Linked DNA regions of Homo sapiens. The protein of the gene in region 1 interacts with the protein of each later gene in a biochemical or structural test. Each region holds a gene or a part of one and is shown on either strand. Other genes may lie near its edges. The genes, in order: TENT5D and FBXO7.

Evidence for each region.
Region 2: of the proteins of TENT5D (region 1) and FBXO7, one has a biochemical effect on the other in vitro, tested with the Homo sapiens proteins (one large-scale study listed by BioGRID).

Annotation. Positions count from the first base shown.
Region 1 is NC_000023.11:80,418,952-80,423,475, reverse strand, and holds the start of TENT5D (terminal nucleotidyltransferase 5D), read right to left. Parts: upstream 3,030-4,524; 5' UTR 2,913-3,029; intron 1-2,912. UniProt on the Homo sapiens protein: Catalyzes the transfer of one adenosine molecule from an ATP to an mRNA poly(A) tail bearing a 3'-OH terminal group.
Region 2 is NC_000022.11:32,481,311-32,485,130, reverse strand, and holds part of FBXO7 (F-box only protein 7), read right to left. Parts: intron 1,235-3,820; coding exon 1,007-1,234; intron 64-1,006; coding exon 1-63. UniProt on the Homo sapiens protein: Substrate recognition component of a SCF (SKP1-CUL1-F-box protein) E3 ubiquitin-protein ligase complex which mediates the ubiquitination and subsequent proteasomal degradation of target proteins and plays a role in several biological processes such as cell cycle, cell proliferation, or maintenance of chromosome stability.

The DNA.
Region 1 (4,524 bases):
TCCCGGTCCATAAAAACCCTGAACCCCGGCCTCATGGTGGGGAACCCCTTTGGGCCCCACTGTCTGCTGCAGAAAGCGTTCTTCTTTTGCTTATTAAACTTTCACTTGAAATTCACCCTTGTGTCCACGCTCCTTAATTCTCTTAAATATAAAAAAAAAACTCTGGATACTATCTCAAACAACAAAATACTGCTACATATTTTGCTTCATTGGGAAAACTACAACAGTAGTACTACTTCCCCTTCCTACTCTTCCTCTGCCCCTTCCAGTGGCTGTAGCTGGTAAAGATTTATAGCTATGTGAATTCAACAGTCACCAAGTGAGCTTCTCTTGCTTCTGATGTAAATGATGCAGAGTTGCTGCCTCTCCAAACTGCCACCAATTTCAGAGAAGCAAGCTGGCCAGAGAAATCTCCAGCCCCTTTTGAAGGGAATCGCTGAGAATACTCTGAAGTACAACAGGCTTTCAAGCAAGCTGGGAGGTAAAGCCACCTAGTGAGACCAAAATGCCATTCTCTCTGCACTGGATGCTGTACAACTCGCCATGACCCTCACAGTAAACCCAGTAACCTCATAAGCTTTATCCACATCATTCCAAATCACTAACCCCTCTGTGGATAACCCTGTCAACACTCAAGGAATTAAGTATTCTCTGAAGGGGACTCCAGAATTATAGCCAACACCATATACATCTTTCACATCCCTCTTAAACACTATCTGAGGAAGGAGAAAAGTAGAAACTCATCCCAATGTTTCTAGAAAAAGCCTTTTACTAACAAAAAAAACCCAAAAAACTTCTGTTCATAGCTCTCCCCGTCTACTCACCGCACCCTCTCAGACATTAAAACTTACCTCACCAACTGCTGCTCTCCTCAAACCCATCCCATCAAGGAGAAAAACTACAGGGGTGTGGTGTTAGCGTGAGGCTCAGGAGGGAGCCTGCTAGTAGGCAAGCAAGAGAAGGGGCCATTAAAGAAAGATAAAATGAAATGCAATTTTTTTTTTGAGACATAGTCTAGCTCTGTTGCCAGGCTGGAGTGTAGTGGCGCGATCTCAGCTCACTGCAATGTCTGCCTACCAGGTTCAAGCGATTCTCCTGCCTCAGCCTCCCGAGTAGCTGGGATTACAGGCATGCGCTGCCATGCCCAGCTAATTTTTGTATTTTTAGTAGAGACGGGGTTTCACCATGTTGGTCAGGATGGTCTTGAACTCCTGACCTCGTGATCCACCCACCTCAGCCCCCCAAAGTGCTGGGATTACAGGCATGAGCCACTGCACCCAGCCATGAAAGGCATTTTTTTAAAGGGAGAGAAATAAAGAAAGAAGGAATCATATGGATTCTACCTACCCTAGGTGGGGTGATCTCTTATTACTTTCCATTCTCCTTCATTGCTGAACTTTCTCCCATGGGATACTACTACCTTTCTCCTTTCCTATACCAAAAACTATTTTCCCTTTTTTTCTTATAAATAATGACTTGCCCCATGAATTCCCAACCTCCCACTCAGTAACCTCCACTTTTTTTCCCACCCCCCGACACACAAATAACTCCTCCTTCTCCTCACATTTCTTCAAGCATTTCCAACACAAATACAAATTTAAGTTCACGCTCAGAAGGCAGTTTTGCTGAAAGACGTGGCATTTTTTTCTAGTCACTTTTTTCCTTAAGTCTCCTTATCATGGGGAAGTCCCCTCCCTCATTTCAACACCTTCTACTCTTAGTTTGGCTACAGATATTCAGGTCCTCATATTTTCTCTCACATCTGCAGTTAATTTTCATAGGAGAAAAAGGGTGAATGATAATGGCATTCTTTAAAGAAACAATTTCAAAATGCAGTCTTTGCTATTTTAAAATACAATTGGCTTAATAAAATCCATTCAGTTTATGATTAATTTGATTATTTTTCTAAACTTTACTTGCATTAAATTGTTCTACTAGAGGAAAATAAGGTAACTTCACTCTTAAGGTACTTAAAAGCTATACAAGTGAGGCCAGGCACGGTGGCTCACGCCTGTAATCCCAACACTTTGGGAGGCCGAGGCGGGTAGATCACGAGGTGAGGAGATCAAGACCATCCTGGCCAACATGGTGAAACCCCGTCTTTACTAAAATACAAAAAAAAATTAGCTGGGTGTGGTGGTGCATGCCTGTAGTCCCAGCTACTCTGGAGGCTGAGGCAGGAGAATCGCTTGAACCTGGGAGGCAGAGATTGCAGTGAGCCGAGATCATGCCACTGCACTCTAGCCTAGTGACAGAGTGAGACCCCATCTAAAAAACAAACAAACAAACAAAAACTATACAAATGAGATAAGACATGAGTGCTTTAAAGGAAAAAAAATAATCTGAAAAGGAAGTTCAGGACTATATAAAAAAAATACAGATATGTAAACATGCTTGATTACCTGACAATAACTTTCTTTCACTGGTATGTAGTAATTAAAAACATTTGATATCAAAAAAGGAATTAGGTATAGTCTTTTAATACTTCACTTCAGAAACAAATTAAAGTTTGAAAATAATCCATCATCAGGCTATTTATTGAGATGTCAATGTGTCAGTCAATTAATGTAGGACGTAGGGAGTTTTGTAACTCTCTTACTCTAGAGTTCTGAAAAAACATAATTCTTAATACTATATCAACGTATCAGTTATGTCTTTTATCTCTTACTCTTGAGCTAGTTCAGAAAATAAAATATTAAAACAATTATTGATGCCCTTTTAAACATATTAACTGAGTTCAGTTTTACCACAGCCATGATTTTGGGCACAGTTATTAATGAAAGAGATAATTTTCAAAGATATTTTAGTTGAATCAAATAAGTTTCTGGACAAAATATAAATTAAACGTCAATTTTGATGTGTGCTCAGAGTTAAAACTAAAAGAAAAACTCCCTTTCTACAAGATTGCTCACCGTGTCTTCTGATAGTAGACTTTGCTGAATTTAACAGTCTTACTCTGAAGACTAACATCCTTTACCAGAGTTCTGCATCACCTGATCTCCACACATTCTCTACACCTCACTTGCTGCAATTCCAGGGTTACTGTTGCCAGGAGACAAGGAATATTATTATTGCATCATTAATGCTCTTATAGATGGGGGAATTTTCAAAAAATAAATTTAAATAGGGCAATTCTGAGTCCCAAATCTCAAAAAAGACAATGTTATACTAGATATATTAAAGATTAAAAACAGGTTCCTCAAGATACTTGAACTTAAGTTAAAAAATAGTGAAGAGGGAGGAAGGAGAAAAAAATAGTGAAAATAACCAGTTAAACCATGCAGATTCACACAGATAGGCAAACATTTTTGTTTTGTAAGTATTGTAACTGCCTACATGTAACTTCAAAATTAAGTTGTAATTTCTGAAATACAGAATTTGGGAAAATATTCTCTATTTAATTTTTACCCCCAAGTGAACATGTTTTTGTTTTAAAAAAAATTCTTAAACAATTAAAAAGAGGCTGGTCATGGTGGCTCATGCCTGTAATCCCAGCAATTTGGAAGGCTGAGGCTGGAGGATTACTTGAGCCCAGGAGTTCAAGACTAGCCTGGGCAAGATAGAGAGACTTCGACTCTATAAAAAATATAAAAAGAAATTAGCTCGGTGTGGGGATGCATATCTGTCATTCCAGCTACTCAGGAGGCTGAGGTAGGAGAATTGCTTGAGCCCAGAAGGTCAAGGCTGAAGTAAGCCATGATCACACCACTGCACTCCAGCCTGAGAAACAGAGCAAGCCTTTGTCTCAAAAAGAAACAGTTAAAAAAGTATTATGGTTGATAAGTATAATTGTTTTGAGTGCCAACAACTAATTTTTAAAAAGAACATTTAAAAGACAGAGTTCTTCTCAAAATAATGTTTTGTTACAGTATGTCCAATTTATAGAAACTATCACATAACTGTTTGAATAAGAATATCAAGATTACAAAGATAGGCAAATAGGTAGATATAGGAAGAAAATTGTCTGGCTAAGCCAGTGATCCATGTGATATTTTTAAGATAGATAATTTATAGCATTTTCCAGTAAAACATAGAAAAGACTAAATACATTTTGGAGGGGCCAAAGGTAAAACAAGATACCTACTCAATGTTTTCCTGGCAGTATAATATATGACAAAGAAATAAATAATTTTTAGTAACATTTAAGACTATAATCCTAATCCTTGTATATAAAGAATGTTACACTGGAGTTTAATTTTAAAGAAAAATATACGTGTACAGTTTCTTAAAGATATGAAAATTACATTACATGATATATATAATACTGAATATAAGTTTTTAATTTTAAACTTTTGAGTGTAGAATTTTTAAACATAATTAAATGGCAATGATAACTAAAAATTATATGATGCTTATAATGTGTCAGGTATTAAGTGCTTTAATTAACTCAATCCTCATTCAAAAGAATGTGAAGAATAGAGGTAGGGTCTATGATCCCATTGAAAAAAATAAAAAACAAATTATGCAAAGAAATTCATGAAAAGAGTAACAGATAAAATGGACATGATGAACAAAGAGTTAGCT
Region 2 (3,820 bases), on another chromosome or scaffold:
CAGCTTATACACCCCGCTCAACTTCCACTTCTCCGGCATGGACAGTGCTTTGGCTTCGGTGCCCTGGGGAACGAAATGAAAGGGAAACAAATAATGAAGAAAGGTGTTACTCTCAAAAAGATTAAAAATCCAAAAGACTCCTAACTTGTTTGAAATAATCACTCCACACAGTCCTCTTAATAAAATGCATCAAATCATTAACATTGCCAATATATTTTATATTGTAGGATAACCATATTGTATAAGATAATATATTAGAACACTTTTAATCAAAATTTTTGTTCAAATAGGTAAAACTGCATCATGGAAACAGGGATTGATCTCTCTCTTCAAAGACTCACTTCTCTCCTAGCAAAGCCATATGATTATTTAAAACTCCGGCTCAAATATCACTTCCTCCGTAAAGCCTTTTTCAAAGAAAAATTGTTTGCCATTTCCTTTCATCCCCTAGCATTCTATTCATATTTCCATTACACTTCAATTGTATTATTATCTATGTTTACCTGTGTTATTTCTGAGTATCTTTTTATTCATCTCTCTCCTCTATGTATGGACTCCTTGAAGACAAGAAATATCCCAATATTTTTATATCCTAATTTCTAGGTCAGTGCATGGCATGCTGCAGGTGTGCACTGATCACCGAACTACTCTGTATCTTTGTAACTTATAACATGGCTCACAGACCAGCAACATTGGTATTATGCAGGAGTATGAAGAAGTTCACGGTCCATTCTACAGTTACTAAATCAGAATCTGCATTTTAATAAGGTCCCCAGGTATTCCAAAGCGCATTAAAGTTTGAGAAGCAATATTCTAAATGTTCTCCTCCATGAATTCCTGGCATCCTATATATGAGTATGTTTCTCCCAGAACTTCACCAATATAGCACAGTGCTTTATATTTTTGTCTCTCTCTGCCACTCTCAGACTACGGGCAACTTGAGAGCAGGAACCATCCACATGTATGAGCAATCATAAGATGTCTGTGTTTTGCTTGCAGTACTTACCTGAGGTATGTAACCTGACTCCAACATGAGAAGATGTATCAACACTATCAAGGCATCATTGGCATCAGAACAGTCAGCTGATTGATACAAGGTCTCTAATGAATGTGGCACTTGCCCTTCCACCGATTCACTACAGAGCATGGGTTCTGAGGGATAGAAACCTGTGCCCTCTGCCATATGCGCATTATCTTGAATTGACTCAGCTTCAAAATTTTGACTAGGCCCTAACTGAAAAAGGAAAACAAAACAATGAATTAATTAAAGACTTATTTTTACACTATACATTTTTGTATCCTAAAGTGAACTAAGTGCTGAAAGTCAAAGTACATCATTGGGTTCAGAAATGGGAGACATTTTAAGTGAGTCCTTACAAATAAATAAGCCTGCGACCTACTCTTCCATCCTGAATTCCTTACCTCTGTTAATTCTAGCTGGTATGTCAAGAACCTGGAAATCATCCTAGACTCCTCCCTCCCTAACTAAACCTTGTTCCACATCTGATCAGTCTTCAAAGTTCCCTGAAACTAACTCCTAAATATGTCTAAAATTTGCCCCTTCCTGCTCTATTGGCACTTCAAACTCTCATCATTTATTTCCCGACATCCAGCAAGAGCTTCCGTTGCAAGTATCCCTTCTTCAACTTTCTTGTCTTCCAATACACCCCAGTCCCTGCTGCCAGAATTTTCTTGACAATTAAAAATCTGATCATGTACTATGTCGCAGCTTAAAATTCACCAGTACCTCCCCAACATAAACAGCATTTCCCTCAATTGTGCCTTAGATGTTCTTAGGAAAAAAGGTGGTGCACACGGAATAAGTGTGGAAAATACTGCATGCTGCAGCCACCTAACTTCACCCTCCATATTCACAAAATACACTATTCGCATTATATAAGCACTGAGGAGTCTAATAACAATAATAGTGTGTGCCTAACACTTTACCAAAAAACACTATCCTCCGTCCTCAGCAGTCAACATCCCTGTGACACCATCTCATGAAACTAGATTTTCAGAGGACACTGAGAAATGCAGGTCTACAAATGAAGACCAAACTTCTAAATCCCTTAGCATACAAAGTCCTTCATTACCTGATCTCTGACTCATTATCAAGTTCACTTTCTGCCAGTGCCTTCTTACTCATCCCAGTATTTTCCACTTCTTCAAAAGAGGTAACACAGACCACAACTCTGCCTTGCAACGGGCTTGATTACTGCACCTTATCACACTGCACTGTATTGCAATTTTCTGATTACATATCTGCATCCTTCCATGACTGCAAGTTTATAAAAAACCAGACTACATGTCACCCATTTTTGTAACCCCAGTAAAGTACCTAGCACATAGCAGGTATTCAATGTTTGCTGAACAAATGCTGAAGGATAATACCTTACAACTTCATAATGTCTTTATTTTCAAAATGTTTTCTTATTTGCACTTTATAACAATCCTATAAAATAGGCATGGCAGGTATCGCCTTTTTATAGATCCTATAATTATAAATCAGAAAGATTAAATAACATAATCAAGGTTACCAGCTAATAAAAATTTGAAACGAACCCAGATCTCTAAACTTGCAGTTCAGGGCTTTGAGATGTAATACATGGCTTCAAAAAAAACTAAGTTACCTATATTAAGTTTGCTCAGAAAGCTTGTTTCCTAGGCATATGCCCAACTCTTAATGCAAAGCATACGTTTCGTCTTTTTAGGGTTTGTTTAAAGAAGGGGCAAAGGAAATTAAAATTACACAGTATATGTAAAAGGTTGGAGAAATGGAGGGGAGCCGGAGGTGACAGCTGTTCTTCCAAAATCTCTGAGGACCTAAGCCCTAGGGCTTATGGAAAAGATCCAAAGTCACCTGTTAAAACCTAAAGGCCAATGACAAGTCACATTACCCAAAAAGGAGGTATGGCACAAAAATATTTCCATATTTCCTAAGAAAACAGAAACAACTACATTAAAAACCACTTAACATCAAGCTAAACTATGAAACATAGGTTTTGCTTCTTTACCACTATGTCTAACTTTTGGCCATTTACTACTTATTGGCAGTTGTGTGGGACAGAATATATGAGGAAAAATGAAAAAGGGTACCCTAGGCTGAGTACATGAGAGGGAGATATCAAAATCCCCTGCTGGGCTTGTCAAGCCTTACTACTACTCCATAAGAACCACTGACATTCTCTGAGCTATTCTGATATGAATATTTATCAAATTCTTCACATGTGTAAAAATGAAAAAAAAAAGGTGAGCACCACACCTCTCTAAACAGATCATTTTGCCATATGTCATTTACAAAAGACTAAAACAAGTGACTAAGATGCATGAGAGCTAATATTAGGTTCTGATACCTGCTACCCGTTTCTCATTAAAGACTCAAGAGGCACTCGATGAATTCCCAAATATGATGAAATAAGAAAACTGATATTTAATTACAAGAGTAAATTTACCTCCTATGGTTTCAAGTTTTACGCATCTATTTTCCTTTTCTAATGCTCCATTCTACATTACAGAGTGTGATGTACTTGAAAGCATTATTTATGAGATCTTGAGCTCAGTTTCCATACTCTAAAGATTTTCCTGTCACCCTTTACAAGTCTTGGAATACAAAACAATATGCAAAATCTTAGAACTGAAATTAGTAACTTCAGGCAACATTAATTTCTCAAAATTTTCCAAAAGGAAACTAGCAAACTATCACAAATACTGTGAAAAGCTTCATCTTACTAGACAACTTTAAAAGTACACAGAAGTAAAAGTAATGGCCCCTACTAAGTCATCCCAGAACAAGTCTATCAGCAAAAAAGACTCAGAAATA